2 separate regions of the Homo sapiens genome follow, and region 1 is linked to region 2. Evidence: fine-mapped expression QTL. A gene starts in region 2. The other region holds a variant in brackets. All regions are shown on one strand. Distances are from middle to middle.

Region 1 (5,363 bases), 34 kb before region 2:
AAGGACACCCAGGGAAGGAGGAGCGGGGAAGACAGAACAGTACAGGTGGGAAGCCCGGAGGAGGGGGCTGTGTGTGGAACAGCAGAGGGCTCCCCCAGCACCCGCTCCCCTGCAGACCTATCTCCTCCTGCTGCTGCTGCTGAGCTCGGGACTCAGTGGGACCCAGGACTGCTCCTTCCAACACAGCCCCATCTCCTCCGACTTCGCTGTCAAAATCCGTGAGCTGGTGAGCGGCGCTGCCCCGGACCCCCTCATGTGATCCCCCTTCCCCCCACTTTTTTTTTTAAGTAGAGATGGGGTCTCTCTCCCTGTGTTTCCCAGGGTGGTCTTGAACTCCTGGGCTCAAGCGATCCTCCCACCTTGGCCTCCCAAAGTGCTGGAATTACAGGCGTGAGCCACTGTGCTTAGGGGTGTCATCCCTTTTTAAGGGCAAGGTTCTGTGGCTTCTTCTGGGCTCCCCCTCTCTTGGTCTTGTCCCTCTCTCTCTGGATCTCTGCTGCCACCTCTGGGTCCCCACAGTTCTGTTTCTCGCTGTTTTCAGCCAGGCCTGATCCTGTTTTCTCCCGCAGTCTGACTACCTGCTTCAAGATTACCCAGTCACCGTGGCCTCCAACCTGCAGGACGTAAGTCATGTTGGGAGGGACCTGGGATGGAGGTGGGGACCACAGACTCAAGATGCTCCACCGAGGCGAGTGGATAACCAGGCCCTCCCCTCCCCAAACCCAGGAATCAGAGTCCTCAGCCCCTCCTCCCTCAGACCCAGGAGCCCCGGCCCAGCCCCTCCTCCCTCAGACCCAGCAGCCCCGTGCCCAGCTCCTCCCTCAGACCCGTGGGTTCTCCCCTCTAGGAGGAGCTCTGCGGGGGCCTCTGGCGGCTGGTCCTGGCACAGCGCTGGATGGAGCGGCTCAAGACTGTCGCTGGGTCCAAGATGCAAGGCTTGCTGGAGCGCGTGAACACGGAGATACACTTTGTCACCAAATGTGCCTTTCAGGTCAGCCCTCAACTTAGGGGACAAGTGAGGGGAGGGAGATGCCTTCCTACGAATTAGAAGTAAAGCTCCACTAGGCCTTATTGGCGATTTGGACCATAGCCACCCAACGAAGGTAGAGCGAGAAGCGCCACCCTGCAGAGCCCTGTTCCTACAGAACAACACGTCCCCAGGCACCGGTGATGGGGAGCAGTCTGGTCCCATTCTGGGGCCCCGGTTTCCTAGGCCATGATGAAGGGTGCCACTGAGGGGTTCTTCCCCCAAAAAAAAACAGGGAGAGAAGGGGTCTCTAAACTGAGGAGGCCGGGCGTGGTGGCTCACTCCTGTAATCCTAGCACTTTGGGAGGCTGAGGTGGGCGGATCACTTGAGGTCAGGAGTTTGAGACCAGCCTGGCCAACATGATGAAATCCCGGCTGTACTAAAAATACAAAAATTAGCCGGGCATGGTGGCTCAGGAGGCTGAGGCACAGGAATCGCTTGAACCCGGGAGCCAGAGGCTGCAGTGAGCCGAGATCATGCCACTGCACTCCAGCCTGGGAGACAGAGTGAAACTGTCTCAAAAACAAAACAAACAAACAAAAACCTCTCTCTGAGGGCTGGGTGCAGTGGCTCACACCTGTAATCCCAGCACTTTCGGAGGCCAAGGTGGGAGGATTATTTGAGCCCAGGAGTTCAAGACCAGCCCGGGTAACACAGTGAAACCTCATCTCTGCACAAAAATAAAAATAAATTAGCCAGGCATGGTGGTGCCCACCTGTGGTCCCAGCTACTCAGAAGGCTGAGGTGGGAGGATCACTTGAGCCCTGGAGGTCGAGGCTGCGATGAGCTATGATTGGGCCACTGCACTCCAGCTTGAGCGACAGAGCAAGACCCTGTCTCAAAACATAGAATAGGCCGTGTATGGTGGCTCACGACTGTAATCCCAGCACTTTGGGAGGCTGAGGCGGGTGGATTGCCTGAGCTCAGGAGTTCGAGACCAGCCTCGGCAACGTGATGAAAACCATCTCTACTAAAATACAAAAACAAAATTAGCCAGGCATGGTGGTGGGCACCTGTAGTCCCAGCTACTTGGGAGACTGAGGCAGGAGAATTGCTTGAACCCAGGAGGCAGAGGTTGCAGTGAGCCGAGATCACACCACTGCCCTCCAGCCTGGGCGACAGAGCAAGACTCCATCTCCAAAAAAATAAAAATAAAATAAAAGCCTGGGTACAGTGGCTCACGCCTGTAATCCCAGCACTTTGGGAGCCCGAGGCGGGCAGATCACGAGGTCAGGAGTTTGAGACCACCCTGGCCAATGTGGTGAAACCCCGTCTCTACTAAAAATACAAAAATTAGCTGGGCATGGTGGCGCGCGCCTGTAGTCCCAGCTACTCAGGAGGCTGAGGCAGAATTCCTTGAACCCGGGAGGTAGAAGTTGCAGTAAGCCGAGATCGTGCCACTGTACTCCAGCCAGGGTGACAGAGCAAGACTCTGTCCCCAAAAAATAAATAAATAATAAAGTAACTTTGGGAGGCCGAGGCGGGCGAGTCACCTGAGGTCAGGAGTTCGAGACCAGCCTGGCCAACATAGAGAAACCCCGTTTCTACTAAAAAATATAAATAAATAAATAAATAAATAAATAGGCTGGGCACGGTGGCTCACGCCTGTAATCCCACACTTTGGGAGGCCGAGGCGGGCGGATCACAAGGTCAGGAGATCAAGACCATCCTGGCTAACACAATGAAACCCCATCTCTACTAAAAATACAAACAATTAGCCGGGCGTGGTGGCAGGCGCCTGTAGTCCCAACTACCTGGGAGGCTGAGGCAGGTGAATGGCGTGAAACCAGGAGGCGGAGCTTGCAGTGAGCCGAGATTGCGCCACTGTACTCCAGCCTGGGCAACAGAGCGAGACTCTGTCTTAAAAATAAATAAATAAATAAATATGGCCAAGCACGGTGGCTCATGCCTACAATCCCAGCACTTTGGGAGGCCAAGGTGGGCAGATCACCTGAGGTCAGGAGTTCGAGACCAGCCTGGCCAACATGGAGAAACCCCGTCTCTACTACAAATACAAAAAATAGCTGGGCATGGTGGTGGGCACCTATAGTCCCAACCACTGAGGAGGCTGAGGCAGGAGAATCACTTGAACCTGGGAGGCAGAGGTTGCATTTCACCACTCCAGCCTGGGCAACAGAGTGAGACTCTATCT[C/CA]AAAAAAAAATTAATTAATTAAATAAATAAACTCTGAGAGCCAGAGCTCACTGGGCCCTGTTGCTGGGCATCGCCAGCAGGGAAGGGCCTTTGGCCTGCGGAGGGGCGGTGGGGGGATGACGTGGTGGTGACGTCTCCCTCCCCTGCTCCCAGCCCCCCCCCAGCTGTCTTCGCTTCGTCCAGACCAACATCTCCCGCCTCCTGCAGGAGACCTCCGAGCAGCTGGTGGCGCTGAAGCCCTGGATCACTCGCCAGAACTTCTCCCGGTGCCTGGAGCTGCAGTGTCAGCCCGGTAAAGGCTTCCAGGCACCCCCACTCCTTCCCCTCCTGTCCTCACGGCCGCTCCTCCTCTCTGCACAGTGCATCCCAGACCCCATCTTTCTCATATTGGTTGTGACAAGGGCAAGCTTATTCCTCTTTCTGGAGCTCAGTTTACCAATTTTTTTTTTTTTTTTTTGAGACGGAGTCTCGCACTGTCGCCCAGGCTGGAGTGCAGTGGCGTGATCTTGGCTCACTGCAAGCTCCGCCTCTCGGGTTCATGCCATTCTCCTGCCTCAGCCTCCCAAGTAGCTGGGACCACAGGCGCCCGCCACCACACCCGGCTAATTTTTTGTATTTTTAGTAGAGACGGGGTTTTACCGAGTTAAACCAGGATGGTCTCGATCTCCTGACCTTGTGATCCACCTGCCTTGGCCTCCCAAAGTGCTGGGATTACAGGCGTGAGCCACAGTGCCCAGCCTACCTTTTTTTTTTTTTTTTTTTTTGAGATGGAGTCTTGCTCTGTCCCCCAGGCTGGAGTGCAGGGGTGCTATCTCGGCTCACTGCAAGCTCTGCCTCCTGGGTTCACGCCATTCTCTTGCCTCAGCCTCCCCAGCAGCTGGGACTACAGGCGCCTGCCACCTCACGCGGCTAATTTTTTTTTTTGTATTTTTAGTAGAGACGGTGTTTCACCGTGTCAGCCAGGATGGTCTCGATCTCCTGACCTCGTGATCTGCCCGCCTCGGCCTCCCAAAGTGCTAGGATTACAGATGTGAGCCACCGCGCCCAGCCTATTGTTTTTTTTTTCTAAGTCGGAGTCTTGCTCTGTCGCCCAGGCTGGAGTGCAGTGGCGCAATCTTGGCTCACTGCAACCTCCATCTCCAGGGTTCAAGCGAATCTTCTGCCTCAGCCTTCCGAGTACCTGGGATTACAGATGCGCATACCATGCCTGGCTAGTTTTTGTGTTTTTAGTAGAGATGGGTTTTCACCATGTTGGCCAGGCTGGTCTTGAACTCCTGACCTCAAGTGATCCACCCACCTTGGCCTCCCAAAGTGCTGGGATTATAGGCGTGAGCCACCGCGCTCAGCCTATTCACTCATTTAATTTGTGACAGTCTGATGAGGTAGGTACAATGATTATCCTAGTTTTACAGATGAGCAAACTGAGGCACAGAGAGGCCAAGCAGCCCATCCAAGGTCACACAGCCAGTGGCAGCCAGGCCTCTCTTTCCTTCCTTACCCCAGCCCTTCTCCTTGGTCACCCAGCCTCCTCTTTCTCCCCAGACTCCTCAACCCTGCCACCCCCATGGAGTCCCCGGCCCCTGGAGGCCACAGCCCCGACAGCCCCGCAGCCCCCTCTGCTCCTCCTACTGCTGCTGCCCGTGGGCCTCCTGCTGCTGGCCGCTGCCTGGTGCCTGCACTGGCAGAGGACGCGGCGGAGGACACCCCGCCCTGGGGAGCAGGTGAGCAGGCTGGGAAGAGGGGGTGAGGGGGCCGAGAGGGTGGCCCACTTGTGGCTGACACTTTGGGGCCCACAGGTGCCCCCCGTCCCCAGTCCCCAGGACCTGCTGCTTGTGGAGCACTGACCTGGCCAAGGCCTCATCCTGGTGAGTCCTTCCTGGGCTATGGGGCCTGGACTTTGTGTCTGCAGGTTGGGAGGGTCACTAGGAGGCCATGGAAGGGTGGTGAGCAGTGGAGGGGCAGGGGCAGCTCTAGGTGCAGAAAGACCCCTCTGGGGCCAGGCGCGGTGGCTCACGCCTGTAATCCCAGCACTTTGGGAGGCCGAGGCGGGTGGATCACTTGAGGTCAGGAGTTCAAGACCAGCCTGGCCAACATGGCAAACCCCAGTCTCTACTAAAAATACAAAAATTAACTGGGCATAGTGGTGTGTGCCTGTAATCCCAGCTACTCAGGAGGCTGAGGAA
Region 2 (5,363 bases):
CTGTAATTCCCAGCACTTTGGGAGGCCGAGTCGGGCGGATCACGAGGTCAGGAGATCGAGACCATCCTGGCTAACACGGTGAAACCCTGTCTCTACTAAAAATATAAAAATTAGCCAGGCGTGGTGGCAGGCTCACGTAGTCCCAGTTACTCGGGAGGCTGAGGCAGGAGAATGGCGTGAACCTGGGAGGCGCAGCTTGCAGTGAGCCGAGACTGCACCACTGCCCTCCAGCCTGGGCGACAGAGCAAGACTCTGTCTCAAAAAATAAAAAAAAGAAAAGAAAAGAAGAAAAGAAGAAGTTAAAGCAGGTTCTTTCTGTCTCTTAGGAGTGGACCTTGGGATGGGTGTCACTGGATCTCCCTTCTAGTAGGACACAGGGAGAATCAGGTAGGACACAGTAGGACACAGGCAGAATGAGAAAAATGAAGACATTCTGGACAAGGAGAACAGAGATTTACCTGGTTAATTTTATGTGTCAATTTGGCTGAGCCACAGTGAGTGAAGAGATATTCGGTCAACATTATTCTGGATGTCTCTATGAGGGTGTTTTAGGATGAGATTTACATATATATTTGTGAGACAGGGTCTTGCTGCTGCCCAGGCTGGAGTGCAGTGGCGCCATCACGGCTCACTGCAGCCTCCAACTCTTGGGCTCAAGGGGTCCCCCAGCTTCAGCCTCTTGAGTAGCTGGGACCACAAGTGCGCACCACCACACCCGGCTAATATTTTAATTTTTTGTAGAGATAAGCTCTCTCTGTTACTCAGGCTGGTCCTTGAACTCAAGCGATCCTCCTGCCTTGGCCTACCAAAGTGCTGGGATTACAGGCATGAGCCACTGTGCCCAGCTGAGATTTATGTTTAGATTGTTAGGCTTTGAGTAAAGGAGGTTCCCCTTCCTGAATTGAGGGAGGCTCATCCAACCACTTGAAACCCTGAATAGAAGAAAAGTCTCGGCTGGGTGCGGTGGCTCACGCCTATAATCCCAGCACTTTGGAAGGCTGAGGCGGGCAGATCACGAGGTCAAGAGATCGAGGCCATCCTGGCCAACATGGTGAAATCCCCGTCTCTACTAAAAATACAAAAATTAACCGGGTGTGGTGGCAGGTGCCTGTAATCCCAGCTACTTGGGAGGCTGAGGCAGGAGAATCGCTTGAACCCGGGAGGCGGAGGTTGCAGTGAGCCAAGATCGGGCCATTGCGCTCCAGCCTGATGGCAGAGCGAGACTGCGTCTCAAAAAAAAAAAAAAGAAGAAAAGTCTGCCCAGAGGGAGAGGGAGTCCTGCTAGGCAATTGTGTCTCCCACCTGCTGGCTCCCCCATTAGACTTTGGGGTTTCTTTCTTTCTTTCTTTCTTTTTTTTGAGATGGAGTCTTGCTCTGTCGCCCAGGCTGGAGGGCAGTGGCGGGATCTCAGCTCACTGCAAGCTCCGCCTCCCGGGTTCACGCCATTCTCTTGCCTCAGCCTCCTGAGTAACTGGGACTACAGGCGCCTGCCACCATGCCTCGCTAATTTTTTTATATTTTTAGTAGGGATGGGGTTTCACCATGACCTCGTGATCTGCCCGCCTTGGCCTCCCAAAGTGCTGGGATTACAGGCTTGAGCCACCGCGTCCAACATTTTTGAAATTTTTTTTAAAAATAGAGACAGGGTCTCCCTATGTTGGCCAGGTTGGTCTCAAACTCCTGGACTCAAGCGATCCTCCCAACTTGGCCTCCCAAAGTGCTGGGATGACAGGCATGCACCACCACACCTGGCCCCCGCATCAGACTCTGAACCAGCTGAACGTCCACTAATCCTGGAAGCCAATTCCTCAAATGAATCTCTTTCTGTGTATGCATATACACATTCTGTGGATTCTGTTTCTCTAGAGAACCTGAACTACCTGACCAGCAGTTCCACTCCCAGATGTATGCTCAATAGAGCTGAAAACAGGCCAGGCATGGGTGTCTTGCACCTGTCATCCCAGTGCTTTGGGAGGCCAAGGTGGGAGGCTGTCTTGAGCCCAGCAGTTTGAGACCAGCCTGGGAAACATAGCAAGACACTATCTCTGCAAAAATACAAAAATTAGCTGGGCCTGGTGGCAAGTGTGTGTAATTCCAGCTCCTTGAGAGGCTAAGGCAGGTGGAGTGCTTGAGCTTGGGAGGTTGAGGCTGCAGTGAGCCATGATCGCTCCACGGCATTCTAGCTTGAGTGACAGAGCCAGACCCTGTCAAAAAAAAGGAAAGGAAGGAAGGAAGGAAGGAAGGAAGGAAGGAAGGAAGGAAGGAAGGAAGGAGGCAAGGAAGGAAGGAGGCAAGGAAGGAAGGAAGGAAGGAGGCAAGGAAGGAAGGAAGGAAAGACTTCATATTATATGATTCAATTTCTTTGAAATGTGCAGAATAGGCAAATCTATCAAGACAGAAAGCAGATGAATGGTTGCCAGGGGTCTGGGAGCAGCGGCTGTTTAACGGGGACAGACCTTCTGTTTGGGGTGATAAAAAAGCTCTGGAACTCGGATAGAGGTGACAGTTGCACAGCACTGTAAATGTGTTAAATGACAGTAAGGGTAAATATTTTGAATATTTTACCACAATGAAATAAGTGTATGGGAAGCTTTGTAGCAGGAGTGTGGGCGGGGGCTGGTGCCTGGAGGGGCCTTCGAGTGAGGCAGCATTGTATGGGGACCATGTGGTCACTGAAGTCCTAGCAGAAGGATGTGGTTTTTTTTTTTTTTTGAGACGGAGTCTCGCTCTGTTGCCAGTCTGGAGTGCAGTGGTGCAATCTCGGCTCACTGCGACCTCCACCTCCCGGGTTCAAGCAATTCTCCTGTCTCAGCCTCCCGAGTAGCTGGGACCACAGGCCCACCACCACGCTCAGCTAATTTTTGTATTATTAGTAGAGACGGGGGTGTCACCATATTGGCCAGGCTGGTCTCGAACTCCTGACCTCGTGATCCGCCCGCCTTGGCCTCCCAAAGTGCTGGGATTACAGGCGTGAGTCACTGCGCCCGGCCCGCAGAAGGATATTAAAGAGCACCTGCAGGAATTTTTTAAGGGGATGCCGGGGGAAGGGCTTGAAGGAGGAACTAAGGAGGCTTCCAGAAGATTTTGATTAACAGCGAGCGCTAGGGAAGGCCACGGGGATACAGAGGGGTAGGAGGAGGATCCAGAGACCTCCAAGTTGTGGACTCCGGAGGCATCGAGTTCCTTTCCCAGTTTTGTCAAGAATTCCCTGAGCGGCAGACACCCTCAAAGTAAAAAACGGGAACCACAGAGAAGGAAAAAGAAGAACCACAAGCGTTTTGAGAAACAAACAGGCTGGGCCTAGGGCCTGGGGTGTGCCCTGCAACTGGGGGGTGGGGCTGGATGTTCTTGGAGTCAGGGAGCAGCAGCCTCCCACAGGATGTGAGAGAGGAACTGGGGTCTCCAGTCACGGGAGCCAGGAGCCGGCCAGGGCCGCAGGCAGGAAGGGAGCGAGGCTGAAGGGAACGTGAGCCGACCAGGGCCCGACTGAGGGAGGAGGGGCTGGGGGCCTGGAACCCTGGGTCTGAGGGAGGAGTGGCTGGGGGTCTCGACACTGGGTCTGAGGGAGGAGGGGTGGGGGCCTGGATTCCTGGGTCTGAGAGAGGAGGGACTGGGGGTCTGGACGCTGGGTCTGAGGGAGGAGGGAGGAGGGGCCGGGGGGGCCTGGACTCCTGGGTCCGAGGGAGGAGGGGTTGGGGGCCCGGACTCCTGGGTCCGAGGGTAGAGCGGTTGGGGGCCCGGACTCCTGGGTCCGAGGGTAGAGCGGTTGGGGGCCCGGACTCCTGGGTCCGAGGGAAGAGCGGTTGGGGGCCTGGACTCCGGGGTCTGAGGGAGGAGGGGCTGGGGCCTGAGGGGGGCGGAAGGGGCGTGGCGGAGCTCGGGGCCGGGACTCTCAGCCTATCAAGTGTCTGTAATTAATTAACCAACTGAGATCCAGTTCAGGGGTGAAAGTTCTTCAGGTACGAGGAGGGCATTGTTGTCAGTCTGGACCGAGCCCGCAGAGCCCCTCCTCGGCGTCCTGGTCCCGGCCGTGCCCGCGGTGTCCCGGGAGGAAGGGGCGGGCCGGGGGTCGGGAGGAGTCACGTGCCCCCTCCCGCCCCAGGTCGTCCTCTCAGCATGGGGGTCCCGCGGCCTCAGCCCTGGGCGCTGGGGCTCCTGCTCTTTCTCCTTCCTGGGAGCCTGGGCGCAGGTGAGGGCCGCTCCGGGCCAGGGCCCTGCTGCAGGCGGGCGGCGGGAGGCGGCCCCAGGCAGGCAGGGGCGAAGCCAGCGGGACCCGAGTTCCCCGCGAGCCCCTGGCGCTGCCTTCTCCGCTCAATTAACTTTCTCAACGTCTCCTGCTGGGCCTGAGGCTGGGAACCACCTGTCGCCTCTTGTGTCTGTTTCCCTCTCTCTCTCTGGGTCTCTGTCCCCCTCTCTTTCTGGGTCTCTTGTCTCTCTCTCTCTGGGTCTCTGTCCCCCCCCCCCCGGGTTTCTGTCCCCTCTCTCTGAATCTGTCCCCCTCCCTCCATAATAGATTCTTCTCCCTCCCTGGGTATCTGTCCCACTGCAGTCTAGTTCCCCGCCCGTGTGCTCCCTTCAGCTCTGTTTCTGTCTGCAGAAAGCCACCTCTCCCTCCTGTACCACCTTACCGCGGTGTCCTCGCCTGCCCCGGGGACTCCTGCCTTCTGGGTGTCCGGCTGGCTGGGCCCGCAGCAGTACCTGAGCTACAATAGCCTGCGGGGCGAGGCGGAGCCCTGTGGAGCTTGGGTCTGGGAAAACCAGGTGTCCTGGTATTGGGAGAAAGAGACCACAGATCTGAGGATCAAGGAGAAGCTCTTTCTGGAAGCTTTCAAAGCTTTGGGGGGAAAAGGTGAGATTCCGGTCTGGAGGGGCAAGGGGCCGGGTCCATGCTCCGGGGCCCCGCTTACCTGTGTTTGGGCGCCCCAGGTCCCTACACTCTGCAGGGCCTGCTGGGCTGTGAACTGGGCCCTGACAACACCTCGGTGCCCACCGCCAAGTTCGCCCTGAACGGCGAGGAGTTCATGAATTTCGACCTCAAGCAGGGCACCTGGGGTGGGGACTGGCCCGAGGCCCTGGCTATCAGTCAGCGGTGGCAGCAGCAGGACAAGGCGGCCAACAAGGAGCTCACCTTCCTGCTATTCTCCTGCCCGCACCGCCTGCGGGAGCACCTGGAGAGGGGCCGCGGAAACCTGGAGTGGAAGGGTGAGCCGGATCTGCAGCCGCAGGCTGTTCTGTCCTCTCTCCCGTCATGCCCACCTGCCTCAGTTCCCCTGCCAGGACCCTCCATCAGCCTCCCACTGCAGCCCACGCTCTGCCCCCCCATTCCTCAGGGGTCCTTCTACACTCAGCCCTCCCATGGCTCC

What was found.
Region 1: its variant is fine-mapped to the expression of FCGRT in whole blood (INTERVAL, PIP above 0.99).

What each region holds. Positions count from the first base shown.
Region 1 is chr19:49,475,576-49,480,938 of GRCh38, forward strand. It overlaps FLT3LG (fms related receptor tyrosine kinase 3 ligand), which reads left to right. Exons shown (of 9, transcript NM_001459.4): 3 at 116-226; 4 at 570-623; 5 at 848-991; 6 at 3,334-3,472; 7 at 4,723-4,901; 8 at 4,977-5,045. The coding sequence ends at 5,024. Among named protein-coding and RNA genes, the nearest start is that of FLT3LG, 4.0 kb to the left of the region's middle. RefSeq lists an enhancer at 417-596. The variant C/CA (reference allele first, on the strand shown) is at 3,181.
Region 2 is chr19:49,509,285-49,514,647 of GRCh38, forward strand. It overlaps FCGRT (Fc gamma receptor and transporter), which reads left to right and starts at 3,377. Exons shown (of 7, transcript NM_001136019.3): 1 at 3,377-3,466; 2 at 4,103-4,189; 3 at 4,598-4,849; 4 at 4,927-5,202. The coding sequence starts at 4,117. RefSeq lists enhancers at 2,397-2,959, 4,887-5,363.